2 separate regions of the Homo sapiens genome follow, and region 2 is linked to region 1. A link means that fine-mapping ties the variant in region 1 to the expression of a gene that starts in the linked region. Tissue or cell type: whole blood. Region 1 holds a variant in brackets; the other region holds the start of a gene. All regions are shown on one strand. Distances are from middle to middle.

The links. PIP is the estimated chance that this variant, and not a neighbour inherited with it, causes the effect.
Region 2: TNIK starts here. The variant in region 1 is fine-mapped to the expression of TNIK in whole blood (INTERVAL, PIP above 0.99).

The regions. Positions count from the first base shown.
Region 1 is chr3:171,104,255-171,112,360 of GRCh38, reverse strand. TNIK (TRAF2 and NCK interacting kinase) reads left to right here. Exons shown (of 33, transcript NM_015028.4): 19 at 1,484-1,647; 20 at 4,199-4,296; 21 at 5,155-5,178. MIR569 (microRNA 569) reads left to right here and starts at 5,602; the gene lies at 5,602-5,697. It overlaps LOC105374216 (a long non-coding RNA gene), which reads right to left. Exons shown (of 5, transcript XR_007096163.1): 2 at 4,986-5,167; 3 at 4,445-4,523. The variant C/T (reference allele first, on the strand shown) is at 4,230.
Region 2 is chr3:171,455,473-171,463,578 of GRCh38, reverse strand. TNIK (TRAF2 and NCK interacting kinase) reads left to right here and starts at 3,174. Exons shown (of 33, transcript NM_015028.4): 1 at 3,174-3,572. The coding sequence starts at 3,516. It overlaps LOC124906303 (a long non-coding RNA gene), which reads left to right and starts at 5,408. Exons shown (of 2, transcript XR_007096168.1): 1 at 5,408-5,633. LOC102724479 (a long non-coding RNA gene) reads right to left here and starts at 4,361. Exons shown (of 3, transcript NR_189068.1): 1 at 4,188-4,361. RefSeq lists an enhancer at 1,973-2,473 and a silencer at 3,485-3,544.

The DNA of each region.
Region 1 (8,106 bases):
GTCAGGAACTCTACAGAGGAAGGCATGACTGTCATCTTCTGTTGACCCCTTCCTCTCAAGGTCTTGTAAGTGCTCTTTTTACTTCCTTGCACTGGGGACGGGACTATGCTTGTGTCTACCAATGGCAAGATTTTGTCCCCCCTAGCTTTACTGAGGTATGATTGACAAATAAAAAGTATATCTATTTACAGTGTATAACATGATGTTTTGATATATGTATACACTGTGAAATGATTACTAAAATCAAGTTAATCAATATATCCATCACCTCACATAGTTATCATTTTTTTCTGATGACATTTAAGATCTACTATCTTCGCAATTTTCAAGTATACCTCGTTATGATCTGTACTCACCATGGTGTACAGTAGATTTCCAAAAGTTACTCATGCTGTCCAAGTGAAACTGTAACCTTTGACCAACATCTTCCCATTCTCTCTCCTTCCTAGATCCCCTGGCAACTATCATTCTACTCTCTGTTTCTATGAGTTCGGTATTTGTAGATTCCACCTATAAGTGAGATCATGTAGTATTTGTCTTTTTGAGAGAGAGATATATCACATTTTCTTTATCCATTCATTCTTCAGTGGACACACACTTAGGTTGATTCCATATTGTGGCTACTGTGAATAGTGCTGCACTGAGCATGGGAGTACAGCTACCTCTTCAATGTACTGATTTCATTTCCTTTGGATATATATCCAGAAGTGGAATCTCTGGATCCTATGATAATTCTATTTTTAGTCTTTTGCGGAACCTTCATACTGTTTTCCGTACTGGCTGTACTATTTTACATTCTCACCAACAGGGTACAAGGGTTCCCTCTTCTCTGCATCCTCACCAACACTCATTATCTTTTGTCTTTTGAAAACAGCCATTCTAATAGGTATGAGGTCATATCTCATTGTGGTTTGGTGGGGTTTTTAAATTTATGTTTTTATTTTTTGAGACATGGTCTCACTCTGTTGCCCAGGCTGGAGTGCAGTGGCGTGATCATGGCTCACTGAAGCCTTGACCTCCTGGGGTCAAGTGACCCTCCCACCTCAGCCTCTCATGTAAGTGGGAGGACAGGCACATGCCACTATGCCCAGCTAATTTTTTTGTGGAGATGGGATCTCACTATGTTGCCCAGGCTGGTCTTGAACTCCTGGCCTCAAGTGATCCTCCCACCTGAGCCTTCCAAAGTGCTGGGGTTATAGGTGACAGCCACTGTGCCTGGCTCATTGTGGTTTTAATTTGCATTTCCCTGATGATTAGTGATGCTGATCATTTTTTTCATATTCCTATTGGCTATCTGCATGTCTCCTTTTAAGAAATGTCTATTCAGGTCCTTTCCCCATTTTTAATTGGGTTATTCGTTTTCTTGCTATTGAGCTGTTTTGAGTTCCTTACATATTTTGGGTATTAAACCTTATCAGATATGTGATCTGCAAAACTGGCAAGGTCTGGAGAGTGTAACCAGTGTGCTCTGTCACTCACACAGCAACCCTGATCTCCGGAGAACTGAGCCCATCTTGGAGAGCCCCTTGCAGAGGACCAGCAGTGGCAGTTCCTCCAGCTCCAGCACCCCTAGCTCCCAGCCCAGCTCCCAAGGAGGCTCCCAGCCTGGATCACAAGCAGGATCCAGTGAACGCACCAGAGTTCGAGGTAAAACTTTCTCTTACCTTTACCTGGCAATACTGCCTGGGAGGAAAGCTGTGGACAGGGAAAAAGGTTAGTTACTTCCTGACTCTAGTCCAGGCATGGCCACCACTGTGTGATCCTGAAGAGCCTGTCAACTGCTCTCAACCCCAGTCTCCTCGGGAGTGGGCCACTGTCCCTAATTGTGTGTGTGCCATCAGTATGGACAAAATCCTTTCTAATCTCAGATACCAGTGTTTTCCAGGGAGATCACCAAATATCAGTCTTATTTGAAAATACAGTCACTTACCAGTCACCTGAATTTCTGTTTCTGTTTGATTGCCGGTTTTTAGAGTTTCATGTACCCACAAATGTCCTGAACGCATTGCACCAATTGTCCTGTTTAGTATTCTGAACATAGTTCATATACACAGTTCAGAATACCATGTATTTCTCAAAATGAAATTCAGTAAAGACTAATGTAGAATACACTTGAAGGAAGGAATAAAATCTTTGACTTAAAAAGCATATTTAGGCCGAGTGTGGTGGCTCACGCCTGTAATCCCAGCACTTAGGGAGGCCAAGGCAGGCAGATCACCTAAGGTCGGGAGTTCCAAGATCAGCCTGACTAACATGGAGAAACCCCATCGCTACTAAAAATACAAAAAATTAGCCTGGCGTGGTGGTGCATGCCTGTAATCCCAGCTACTCGGGAGGCTGAGGCAGGAGAATCGCTTGAACCCAGGAGGCAGAGGTTGTGGTGAGCCAAGATCACGCCATTGTACTCCAGCCTTGGCAACAAGAATGAAACTCCATCAAAAAAAAAAAAAATTGTTGACTCCTCTGGTTATTCCTATTAAGTAAAAATTAGCCTCTCTAAATATTTAATTCAAATTATTCATCATTGTTTAGTTTCCAGTAATGGGGAGGCCTATGAAAAACATTATTATTTCCAGGTGCTGATACATAATAATACATTGTTTCTAGCTAGTTAAAATTCACTCCTTCTGAATCAACTTCTTCAGAAGATAATTTTGCTTCTAAGTGATGAAGACCAGTACTTTAATTGCAATTTGACAAATATTAACATACTTATAAGTTTCTCTGTCTGATGAAAGCCTCATGAGAACCTTCAGTTCTTTTTTCTTTCTTAGACTCTTTATTACATACCACCTCCTAATACCCTTAGTTTATCTCCTAACACCCTTTCAGGGTTTTAAATAAATCACTCTATTTCCATTTTAAAAAGCTTGATATCTAACATGTGATTGATGTTCACGTCTCTGGATTGGGATATGGACTAGCCAACAGCTGCCTCTATATGCATTCTTCTGATTAGTGGCACATCTCAGAAGTATCTACTGTATGTCTTTGTTGCCTTGATCGAAATATAAATTTCCTTAATTTAGAAAACTACCAGATGTAGTGGCTTACGCCTGTAGTCCTAGGTACCCGGAAGGCCGAGGTAGAAGAATTGCTTAAGCTCAGGAGTTCAAGGCTGCAGTGAGCTATGATGGCCCCACTGCGCTCCAGCCTAGGTGACAGAGCCCCATCTCTAAAACACCTAAAGAAAGAAAACAGCCATTCTGTTATCTTTTTTCTATTTATAGGCAACTTCATATTCTTAGAGCAAATATTTAAATAAACCAAACTTAAACGCATACCATTTTAATTCTCTGGTCTGGTTCAGGCTTACTTTTTATTTCCTTCAGCCCCTCGTTCTTCCGGATTAAAAGGGCTGTTGTATCCCTGGTATGTCCCTGTCCAAGAAAGACTACTTTTTAAGAAATAAAAACCACCTCTCCTACCCTAAATTGCATCTTCTCTATCTGTAAGCTCATAGACTGCAAAGATGCTATTCACTCTGCAGCTGTCAGGGTCCCCTTGACCTTGCTCTGTACCTCCAGCCTAGGGCCCTTCTCCTATAACAACCCCCTTCTTGCCCTCACCTCATTCTTTTATTTTTAAAGGGCTGAGACCACTCCCATCTCCAATTAAAAACCGTTCCACCAAATAAAATAAATTTTTTTTCCCTCACAAAATTTCAACAAAATAACCTATCCTGATTGGACAAATGATAAAAGAAGAAAACAAGCATAGAACCTTAGAGGCTCATTTAGCATAGTGACTGAGAATAGGACTTTCAGAAATCAGAACTCCAGCTCTGTCTATAATTTCAGTGTGACCTCCGGACAGTTGTGTCATCTTTGTAAATCTGTGTTCTGTAAAATAGGAGAATAGTGCCATATCATTGGGTTGGAGTGAGGATTAAATGAGATAATTGACATGGAAAGCATTTAGCACTATGCCTGACACATAAGAAGTGCTCTAGTGGTGATAGTACTTGCTACATTTCTTTTTTTTTTAATTGTTACTAGTGATTTCCAGGTCACAAGCCTAAATGTGTTTGCCTGAACATTATATTTTTCATGGATGTTTCTTGAGGATTTGCCCAGGTGAATGACGTGTCCACTGAGTAATCTCAATGTGATGACACATCACAGATAATTCATTCAGAACTTGAGCCAGCACTTTTTGATGGCCATCTCTTTCTTGGTCCTCTGTTTTTTTCCTCTAGCCAACAGTAAGTCAGAAGGATCACCTGTGCT[C/T]CCCCATGAGCCTGCGAAGGTGAAACCAGAAGAATCCAGGGACATTACCCGGCCCAGTCGACCAGCTGTGAGTGCTTTTCTCTCCAAGAGTTTTGAACTCTTAATTTACCAGAGAACCCACAGGATTAAGTAGTTGGGGATACACTCATGATGCAAACAAAAATTGTTGAGATTAGTAAGAACGGATGCTAGAAACATCCCGAAGAAAGTCATACCTGATTAGGAAAGAACCGAAGAGATCTTGGATTGACTCCTCTGCCTTTGGCTATTTGCTGATCATTAGCAGTCCTTTAACTATAAAACAGGAAGAGAAACAACTCCTATCATTCCATAATTTCTACTCAGCAACTTTGGCAAAAAGATGTTGAAAGTAGCAGTTAAAGAGACTTGGGTACTTTCTATGAACTTCTCTAATCTCTTCTACTCTTTCCCCATATTATTTTCCACATGAATTAATATTACAGTTTTTCTGCTATTTTTCATGCCTCCAGGACTATATTTTCTGGACCAAACTTTTTAAGCAGGGTCCAACAGGCGTCGTAACAACTTAGCATCCAGCTTCACTGCTGTAACATGATAGACCCCCAGGTAGCCTTAAAGAGGAGTATGGAGGCTAAAATTTGAAAGTTGAAAATTAATTTGGGATGAATTACTATCCATTTTTTCTATTTAAATCTCTTGAGAATCTTTTCTGTAAAATGAACGTGAAGCTTTTTGGTTTACTCTTTTTTAACATCTTAAAGTAACGACGTATACCGAGAGTAATAATGAAGGGATTTGCATCATTCTGGATTGACATTCTCTTCGCCCTTTTGTATTTATCAGTTGCGTACTAACAATTACAATTTTGTGTCTAATCTGCTGCCTTTCTGCTGGCTTTTCCTCCTTCTGTGGATTCTTCTGGATTGGGTTCCTCTCATTTCAGAGCTACAAAAAAGCTATAGATGAGGTTAGTATTACCTTTTCTTGGTCATGCTTTCACAAAATGTAAATATTAAACTTATTTCCTAATGTTGACATTCAGAAAGGTGGCCAATGGGAGCAATCAGCTGGGAGGAGATTTGTAGCAATCTGCTGGGAGGAGTGCCCCTTCAAATGGAAGCCAACTTTAAGACCCTCAAACCTACCCATATAGCTTCAGAGACCTTCCTTCTAAGCTAAAATGTCACTTTTCCAATGTTCCAGTCTGGCTAATGACAAGTATTCATGCTTTATTAATGGCAGTTTCTCCTTCCAGTATCTTCCAATAGCAAACCTGTACTTGCCAGCCTTGCTAGGGAATGGCTCTCAGCAGTTTTACTAACAAGAAAAGAGACATCATTCTAGGACACTCCAAATTTAGAGTGTGTGATTTGTGAACAAGGAGTTAGTAGGTATTGTTAGATTAATTTTGTGGGACATTAACAACAGCATCAGAAGCAACATCAGCTTTAGTTAATGAATCCTGGAAAGTTAAGTGACTTTATTTCCTTGTCTGTGGAGACGTTTTCCATTAGAAAAATATATGGCTTTGTCAGTTGTAGGTAGCTTGCTAAGAAGGATGACTGCCTTACTGCTATTTGTCAGACCTGCATGAATACAGCAGAGTAGAATTTGTTTTTTTAAGATCCAGGCCTTGCAAAGAGTCCTAAATGCATGGAATCTAAAGACTACCATCATGGCTTTAAAGCTGTAGCTCTGCTGAGCACTACTTTTGTGAAATTTAATGGAAAAAGCACTGGCTTTGAGGTCAGCAAGCTGCATTCAAATCTTGGCTCCCCCAGTAAATAACTGGCTGAGACTAGTCTCATAACCTCACTGGGCCAGAGTTTCCTCATCCATAAAATGAGAATAAAAACACCTCCCCATCCCACTTACAAGATTGTTTAGGATCATTTAAGGTAATGTGTGTGAAAGCATTTTATGTGTAACATTGCTGCAGAAAGCCAAGGGTTTGATTAAGGTTTGGGCCAGAGGCATGGAGCTATTTTGGCAGGTAGGAGAAGCATGTTTCCATGTATCTGGTCTTCACCGAAGAGCCTCACTTTTTCAGACTTATGGCCACCTCACCACCCAGAGTGACGAGACAGTTATGATCATAGTTGAAGGATTGTTGCTTATAAAAGAATGAGACTCCGCATGTTTGCGGTGTGTGGATGGCATTTATAGAAAGGGAAGAGGAGAGTGTGTTTTTAATTGCTCTGTGCCGTGGCCTTGCTTGCCCCTCTCTCTCATAATAGTGAGAAGGGCAGGGATTATCACAACTTTTGTCAGTTTTCTCCCAGAACAGGTAAAGAAAGACAGTGAAGTTCTGGTGCTACAGTTGCCAATAAAATGGCTGTGCATGTGCAGAACTCAAGAGGAATTACATGAGTTCAGAAATTGGCTTGGAGGGGCCGTCATTAAGGAAAAGGCTCTCACAGATTTCATCTGATTAACCCAGAATATTTTAGGCTTTGAAAAATTGCTCTACTTTTTTTTGGTGTACTGCACCACACTGGACAGAGATGAGAGGGGGCAATGGAGGTATACGTAATTACAAATAATTGAGGGGGTGTGAGCTGCATACTAAAATCTCTGGAGCCATGTATGGTTGGAAAAGCCCTCCAGGTGACTATCCTGATCTCTTGAGTATCACTGATCCAAACCACTAAAATAAAGCGGTTCTACCTAACCCAGTGGCTCTCAACCACGGCTGATTCCTCCACTCCTCTTCCCTTAGGAGACATTTGGCAAAATCTGGAGACAGTTTTGGTTGTCACCACTTCAGAGTAGCAGGCAGTGGTACTGGCATCTTGTGGATAGAGCAGAGGGGTGCTGCTGCCAAACATCCCGTGGTGCACAGAGAACTCCCTACAATAAAGAATTATCTGGCCCAAAATGTCAACAGGGCCATAATTGAGAAACTTTGAACTACACCTTTCTCCCTTCTCCATTCATAGGTTTTGGTAGGGCTTCCCTCTCAACGACTGTTTTTGCAATTTAGATAACTGGGATTGAAATGAAAAATCTGAAAATCACTTTTGAAATATTGTCGCTTGTTATTGCTAATGATTTAACTTTTTATAAAAATTAATTTGGGGGAGTGTACATTAATGTGACATTGCTTTCTAATGGAATATGAGATTTTGCAGCATAGTCTATTTAATATAGTCTTTGAATATAGTCTTTGAAAATAAATGGGTTTTCTCTGTTGGCACAATTAAATATGTGACACAAAGATTATACACGTAAGAAAACACTGTTTTTACCGCTGTTTTTTATTAGTATGTGGGCATCAAAAATTTCAAAGCACATCAATTTAGATTGGATGGAAGGTGAACAATAACTAGGGGTTCAACCCCCTTTTCCCTCAGATGAGGATATTGAAACTAAGTGGCTTGCCCAATGTCATATCTTTAGAGTTCCTAAAAAGAAAATAGTTTAATACAAAGAGAAAAAAAAGCTAAAAATTTTTAAACAATAGTTCAAAAATTGAACTAATATTTATTTGAATAAACTATATTGTTTCTAAAAAGGGACCTAAAAGAGCGCCTTTTTAGTCAAGATGTGCATAATAGTTAACCTTTGTTGAATGAAAAATTATATCTAGTTGATTCTAAAAACTGTTAAGCCTCGTAGCTATCTTCACATTTACTCTGTAGTCAAAAAATCTTACCATCTTGCCATATTTCTTTTTTAGCTATATATTCTCAAATATTTTCATGCTAAATAGCACTTATTTTGTTTTTTAAATACTTTTTAGCTCCAGGCTTGTGACAGCCAAGTAATAAATTACCAAGAAGGCTCATTATATGGAGAAAATTTGTATTGTCAAAGAATAAAATATATGAAAATAGAATTGAACCCAATGGTGTTAATATTAGATTGTGTTTATTTCCTATAACTTTGCTATTAT
Region 2 (8,106 bases), 350 kb before region 1:
AAGGATCTGCCCTCATGATCTAATCACCTCTTAAAGGTTCCACCTCTTAATACTATCACTATGGGGGTTAGGTTTCAACACATAAATTTTGGGAGACACAAACATTCAGATAGAACAAATGCTTAGAAAAATATCTGCAGCATAGTATTACTTATTATTCAAATTTTCTATTCATTTTTATAAAGAGGGTCTCCCTCTGTCGCCCAGGCTGGAGTGCAGTGGCTTATCTTGGCTTGCTGCAGCCTCAACCTCCCGGACTCAAGCAATTCTTCCACCTCAGCCACCCTAGTAGCTGGGATTGCAGGGGTGTACCACTATGCCCACCTAATTTTTGTATTTTTTGTAGAGATGGGGTTCTACCAAGTTGCCCAGGCGGGTCTCGAACTCCTGGACTCAAACTATCCTCCCAACCTGTCCTCCCAAAATGTTGGCATCACAGGTGTGAGCCACCACCGTGCCTGGCAGAAATCTTTAGCAAAAAAATTAGGTATCATTGTTGGAGTCTCCTTTTCCTCTTCCTCTTTTCTCATTATCCTGAAGTTAATCTGTATCCTTACTGCCTGTATCCATGCTTTATATAGTTTACTACATATTTATACATATGTAAACAGCATAGTGTATTATTCGGCAGGTTTTCAAACTGCACATAAATGGTGTCAGTTCTCTTAATCCTTCAGATTACATCAAGAAAAAAATCTCAAGTCTTGAATGTTTTTCCTGGTATTTGCTATTCTCTCTTTTAACAAACTAAGAGTAGGCCTTAGGCTAGAAGCCCAGAGCAGGAATTGATGGCTAGCTAGAATTTAATAATACTTCTTTATTTTCCATTATATTTATTTTAATGGTTTCCTCCCCCCTTTTTTTTTCAAAGCAAGTGTTGTTGGCTTTCCATTTAGAGTAGTGATTTATGTTTTCTTTTATATTAAGTGTAAGAAAAAAGTGTTGATTTAAAGAAAAATGTTAAGTAAGTGGTAAAATAGTACAGGCAATACAGAGACATAGGAAAAAATTAGGAAATTTATACTGGAATAGCTGAAATTTGATACACACTTGACCAAAAGGAAAAAGTTCAAGTTCCTCCTTCTCACCTTCCTTTACCAGTTGGAGGTCCCTTTGATACTGCAATCTCTCCTTTTATGGTATTTCCTGCAGCCCACACCCCTGCCTTCCCCTGGCTGTCTCATCAACTTCTCAGGCTCTTAGGAAGCCCTCCTCCATTTAGCACCTGGCATCATACTGCATCTATAACTTTCTCATCTAAAACTAAACTAAATCTGAATGCCAACTTGGCACCCTCGTGGCCCAAACAGCTCACTAATGTCAAAAAAGTTGATCTGTTTGTGATGTTTCAAATATAATCATGAGTATAAAACGAAGGCTTTCCATGGAAAAAATATTTAACTCATATTTCCTTATGTTTGCAGTTTTAAAAAAATAGTTGTTTATAGATCTTAATACTTGATCTTAAATTATCTTCTTTCAACCCTGAGACAATACATTAACCTGTTGTCTAGATGAACGGTAAAAAAACAGGAACACAGAAGAGAAAAAAACAAAGACAATGATGGGAAATAATCTGTTTTTTTTTTTTCATTTCGACGTGGTGGCTTACTGCACGTTACTTACTATGTCGAACCAGATGATTTTAGTAAAAAATGAGTTTAGTAATTTAGTATAACACGTTCAAATGTTTACATACAACGTTTACAGGCAAAAGCTACCAAACTGTTGTGGCCATTGAGATGTTGGAACAATTTTCAAGTTTCATGGTGCATGATCCACAATGCATATGAATACATACAATATCAGTAACAAAAACAGTACAATGTACACCAAAGGTTGTTTCAAAGTCCTCTAATGTCTGCAGTCATGATGAACTAACTGCACTGGCTTTCATTCATTCATTCATAAGACTTATTTTGAAGCTGATCTTCATACTGCATGATTAAGAAACCATCAGTGCAGTGGTCAGAATTACATTCTGCTGTTAACAGAGGAGCAAAGAATGCTTTCAAAGCTACTGCTGTATTTGGAAAAAAGTTCAGTTTTAGTGTTTTCTTTCTAGGTATTTTGCATGGCTAAGGCGGGAGAAGAAGGGCTGCGCGGGGATTGGGGGAAGCGACTTCCCACTCTTGATTACAGAAGGAGAATCATGTATACCACTGTAAAACATCCAACCTTTAAATGAGAAAGTGAGTGAAGTGAAATCGCTCTCACGTACACATCTTCCGCGTTACTTCTTATCCGCCAGCCAAACTTTCTCCATCAATCTGGGTAGGTCTGCCACGAAAACGCAGCCTGAAAGAAATGCTGAGTCCTGAGGCGGCGTGTGTTGCCTCACCCAGTGTTGGCTTTGGAGTTACCTGAAGCCTTCTAGCTACTGCACCCAGAGAGCAAGCTTCTCGTTTCAACTCGGTTGTTTCCGTGGGGAATTGCGGCACGAGCAAGTCCTGGGTGTGGCGATGCCAAGAGAGCGCTCAGATCTCCCATCTTTCCCGCTTCTGGCAAACCTTCCCAGCCCCGAATCGGCGAGTGACCAGCACCCGGGATCAGCCGTCCGGCATTCCGGGGACCGCGGGTGGACCCGACCCCGCCGCAGCTGCAAACTGCCGAAGCGCCCAGCTGGGTGCACTGTGCGTGTGCGCTTCTTCCCTACTCTTTCCGCGCCTGGAGGCGGATCCCCTTCCTTGCACACAAGTCCTTATATGCACCGGTTGCACCAGCCCGCGTTACTCCGGCCCCACAAATAATTAATGGGGGAGGGAGGGTGTCGCTTTTTTTTCCTCCGGCTTTTTCTCAGCGCGAGAGCATTTGAACCGAGGAGAAACCCCAAGACGCGACTGAAGGGCCATTTTGCTGCAGTGCACGAATTGGCCACACAAAAATAGAGCTTGGGTCCCTATGATAACAAGTCAAGGTTCAGGAACAGCCCCTTCGGGTTCGGCCCGAGGAGCCCGCAAAAGCCTGGGCGGAAAGGGTGCGCGCCCCTCCCCCCTCCACGCTGGTGCAGAGGGACCGGGTCAGGAAGCGCGGCCTCTCCCCAGTCCAAGACCACGCCTCCTCCGCCTCCCCACTCCCCCTTCACTCCTCCCAGGAAGCGGTGATAGACAGTTCTGCGTGGTTCTCCACCCCCACCCTCCCCCTGCTGAGTGGAGGAGTTGATGTGTCTCATTATAACAGCCAATGCAGCCGCCATCCACGCACAAGCAAAGAAGCATGTCCCATTTAAATACACCCACGCAGCCCCAGCGCCCTTAGCCGATCGGGGCGCTCAGCCCACACGCACCGCTGCTCGGGGCTTGGAGATCCGCGCAGGCTGGGCTCCCGGACCCGGCGGACCGACGCGCGGAGGATCGGGATCCGGCGCTGTGGGGCTGGGGTGGGCGGGGGAGGCTGGGCCCGGGGCCTCTGGCGCGACACCCGCATGAGGACGCGAGTGAAATAGACCAAGGTGGAATTTCCAAGGGAAAAGCTTCGGGGTGGTTTTGGTCCATTTCTCCAGCGAAGAAGTAGACATGGCGAGCGACTCCCCGGCTCGAAGCCTGGATGAAATAGATCTCTCGGCTCTGAGGGTGAGCAGGACGTTTTCTGGTTTCTTTCCAGTGGTTTGGGTTAGGGTGAATGGGCTCGGTGCGTGGACTGGGGGCTGGGGCTGGGGCAGGGGGACAGCAGCGGGAGAATGCGTCGGGGAGGGAACCTGGATTCCCGTTTTGATTCGGGGTTGCTGAGGTGCTCCTGGCTGAGCCCCTACGGCAGGGGCTGTGCGGTACGTGTCTTCCTCTGGCCGTGGCTTAGGCTCTCCCGAGGGCTCGTAGAGCTTATGCCAGTTTCATCTTATACCGGTGTAAGAGCATTAAAATGAAAGGCGTGTGTGCGTGTGTGTGTGTGTGTGTGTGTGTGTGTACACGCCCCGGGCAGTTGTCTGGTGCCAAGGCGCGAGACCCGACTGTCCCTTCTGCAAAAAGAATGCCAGCGTGAATAAAGGCACTGGCCCCTCACGTTTTCCAGCTACCTGCAAGATGACATTGTGAGGCTGGCTGTCCCCGCGAAGCCGAACCTGCCGCTCCAAGGGGGCAGTTATTGCTATGCTGGTCTTGTAGATGGCAACTGCCTCCCCCTCCCCCTTTTCTACCTCCCGCGCCCGGGCGCCCTCTCAGCGCTCCCTTAAATGCCAGTCTGCCACTCACCTTTATTTATGGCTTTAACTCAGCCCTGCCTGTTCTTTCTGACTTTGTGGCTGTAACGTTTCAGTTTTATGGCTGAACTTAAGCAGGTGAAAGGGATGTGTTTTCTGCTTTTCCTCAATCAGACCGGAACTCCCTGGAGTGTGTGCGAGTGTGTGTGTGTGTGTGTCTGTGTGTGTTTTCCCCGTGTCTGTGGCCAGTCCTTTGTAGAGCACCTCCCTCCCCCCAGCCCCACTGGTTTGCGTTTACCTTCACGTGAATTACCTCAGACGCCGTTTCATTGTATTGACTAAGACATCACTGATATAGAATCCATTTTGCTGTTGTTTTGAGATCAGAATACCAGGAATCCAAGTGCTGCTTCGACGCTTCCCCACCCCCAACTCCCGATCCCAACACACTCCTTTGGGGAAGGGGGCAGAGCTTTCTTGCCATTTTAATTAGATGCTGCCTGCCTGGAAGGGGGTGAGGGGTGGGGATGGTGGCAGCAGCGGGTGTCTGAGAAGGATTGGACACCAATTTAAGGACTGCTTCTTCCTCTCCCGAACCAAAAATAAAATTAAAAAGAAAGCGAGTGCATATACTTGATGTATGGAGGGTGGATGAGAAGGAATTCATGGTGGCTCTCTACAGGGAGACACCAGGATGGATGAAGCATGGAAGTTCACACGCCCTCCTGAGGAATACATTGTTAGATTGATGCTGAATCTTGGGGCCATTTACCTGGATTCCTAGTACTTCTGACATTGCCGCTATCTGCACTGATATATTAAAGTGCTACCTTTGTGATCAAAGTGGTACTTTCTCTTTGGTCTCCTTAATTAAACCTTTTCCTCCACATCTCTTTGAATAAGTCTTTCTCTCTTCGTCTTAATCTGTTGGGCTAAGAGATGAGGTTTCAGCAAGGCAAGTAAGGAGTTGAGAAGAAACAGAGATGCCGTTTGAAATGGGCTGTTCTGATAGTTGGGCAGCCAAAGCTCATTCATGCATTATTACAGGAAGCTGTCTATTTCCCTGGAGTGGAAATGCCACATCAAGAACCGGCTGCCCCCTGCGCAGCGGGGTGGGGTTGGTAACAGGGTGGGTGCATTGGCCAGGTCTGTGGCTTCCTGCTTTACCGACTGTGTGTGTTCATTTGCCCTACTTTCTACGCTGGGAGTTGCTGCCGGCGAGTTAATCAGGTGGATGGATGGCCCCGACTGGGGGTGGGGTGCTGCGAATCGGTCGGAGGTCGGGGTGGGGGGCGGGAAGTGGCAAAGGGGGAAGGGGTCTGAACAATGCGCAGGGCTTGCGGTGATTTCCCTGGGCCGGAATCTCGACCTTGCTCCTCTACTGGAAAGCAGTCTGATGTGATTTTAAGTTGGGCCGGGACTTGTCCCTTATGGGCTTTTTCCTCGGGAAGGTTTTCTGAGATACCAAGCACGGAGCCTGCAGGCAGGGGAGCAACCGGTGAGGGCCCACTGGGCGGACGACTGCGGTTCACACTTGGGATGTGCTTTCTTGTGATCTGTATTTTGAAAATATATCTTTGCACAATTCACTGAAATTGCTCTTTGTGGCCTGGGCTATCAGCTTAGGGCTCTGCTTCTGTTTTTCTGCCTGCTGGGAGGTGTGGAAACAGAGAGGGCAACAGCTAGCTTGGGGACCAGGAACTGCTGGCTAGAAGACTTAGATGCAGATGTGGAGACAGTTATATCCTGGAGGGCCAGGGTCTTTGACCAGTCTTGTGGGTGAGGTGTGTCTGCTGGAGTGGGTCCAAAGGCCACATAGGTAATCTCCACAAATCAGAGGGCAGATCATCTCCACCTTGCCACATTTGGAGAGGTGGCCTCATCTAGATGAGATGTCTCATTTGTTCCTAAGCCCTTGGTAAAGTCTGCCTGCTGAGCCCCTCCTGGGGAATGCCTGACCCCTGAAATGCAGCCAAGGTCAGTGGCTTCTGGGAGAATTTGCTGCAGACTTACCAGTCCCTCGCTGTTTCGGTGGCTCTTTAATGTACACAGTCAATGCTCTTTTTGTAAACCCTGGGCTCAAAGCATTAAAAGCAGATCCTGTCTAGAGAGGCCTTTATCCTTCTCACTTTGGGGGCTTATTGTTCTCAGCCAGTGATTCCAGACCGGACCCAGTCTAAATTTTCCCCAAATAGCAACAATGCATAATTTAAACCAGAGCAACCAATGACAGCACTGATCATTTAAATTATGCAAGATTTGCATGGTTTAAAAGTGAGTGAAGCAGGATCTTCTTTGGTTAGAAAATAGGTACTTTGAATCCAGTTTTAGCCCTGATTTTTAGAGCTCAGAGATAAACTAAATCTTGAGGGATGGGCTGGAATTGTTTTATAGATTCAGAGCTGGAAAGAGAATTGTAGAACACTCAGCCACTCCTTTCATTGAACACTTGGGAAACTGAAGCCCAGAGGCGTGAAGTAAGTTGTTCAAGGTCACACAGTAACAAGGGGAGGGGACAGCGAGGAGCGTGGTTTGAGGAAATAATCTAGATTTCCTGACTCCTCATTCAGTGCTCTTTTCTCTAAGTCACACTTTCTGTGGTGGAATCAGAAATCAATAATACATTTTCTGCCTGAGTACAAAAGAATAGCAGAAAGGAATAATTTCACCAGGGTCAGGGAATTTTATTTATTGAGAATGGCGAAACTACTTCATGCAAGTAAGCTTGTGATACATGAAACCATGGAGCTCTAGGCCACCTTTGGAATTCATCTTGTCCAGCCCTGGTTCAATGCCTACTCTGCAGGCAAACGACTGTCTGAAATCACCTAGGACACATGGTTGTCCTGCACAGGTAACCTCTCTGAGTAACCTGTGTCCATCAGAGCATGTCTCAAGGGGTCAGTATAAACATACATGTTATTCAGATGGCTCTGCATGTGAGGTTTATAGAGTTGTGTGTATGTTTTGTATTATCTATGTGGATACATATATTATGTGTAGTATTATGGATATAAACCGTATCCACGTGGGTGTATGAAAATGTGTGTATACATACATAGGCTACAGCAAACAATTTACTCATTCAAACCTGGGGCTTGAGTCATTCTTGCTTCAAGACATCTCAGTATTAAAAGAGATGAAAGTTGCCACCAGTGTGCTTTATTACATATGAGGCGAGCTCAGCCCAGAAAGCTTTTTGGAGATTAGCATATTTCTGGACCTAAGCACCTTGGCTGTCCTTAACTTGGCCCACAGGGTAAGGCATTCAAGGCCAGGAGTTGGCTGCTGCTGACCTCATACTCTCAGCTTCTGCCAGGACTCACATACACTTTTGTATTTGAACAAAATTAGATGATCTACACTTGTCTTTCCCCTTAGCCCTCATTCCCTAGCCATTCCTTTCTCCATTGAAACCCAGATTTAAGAATTGACCTCATCTGAAAGCCTTGCATACATCCCTTTGCTACACTTTTCATGCTCATGTTTTACTTGGTGTGTGATTTCCTTTCTGCTTCTTTACTAAACCGTGGACTTCTTGAGGGCAGAGGCTAGATCTTGTTCATCTTTGGAGCCATAGTCTCCATTAGTTGGATGAATGAGTACGTGAATGAATGCTTGAATGAATGGAGTGGAATGAACCCTGTCTCCCCAGTTCTATGTCCACCTCTTATTCACTCTGTGACTTTGGGTAGGACATTTAACCATAGTTAATAAGAATCATCACAACTGTTTGCCTTTCTCACATACTGGTTTCAAAATCAATAAAGTATTTAAGGCAATGCTTTAAAAACCATACAGCACTGTACAAATATGCTATCCCATGGTTAAGTAGAATTTAGTGGGAAAATTGATACCATCAACATTTGATTGCAATGATTTTATCTAATAGAAAATTATCTTTCCTGGGCACAGTGGCTCACACCTGTAATCCCAGCACTTCGGGAGGCCGAAGTGGGAGGACTGCTTGA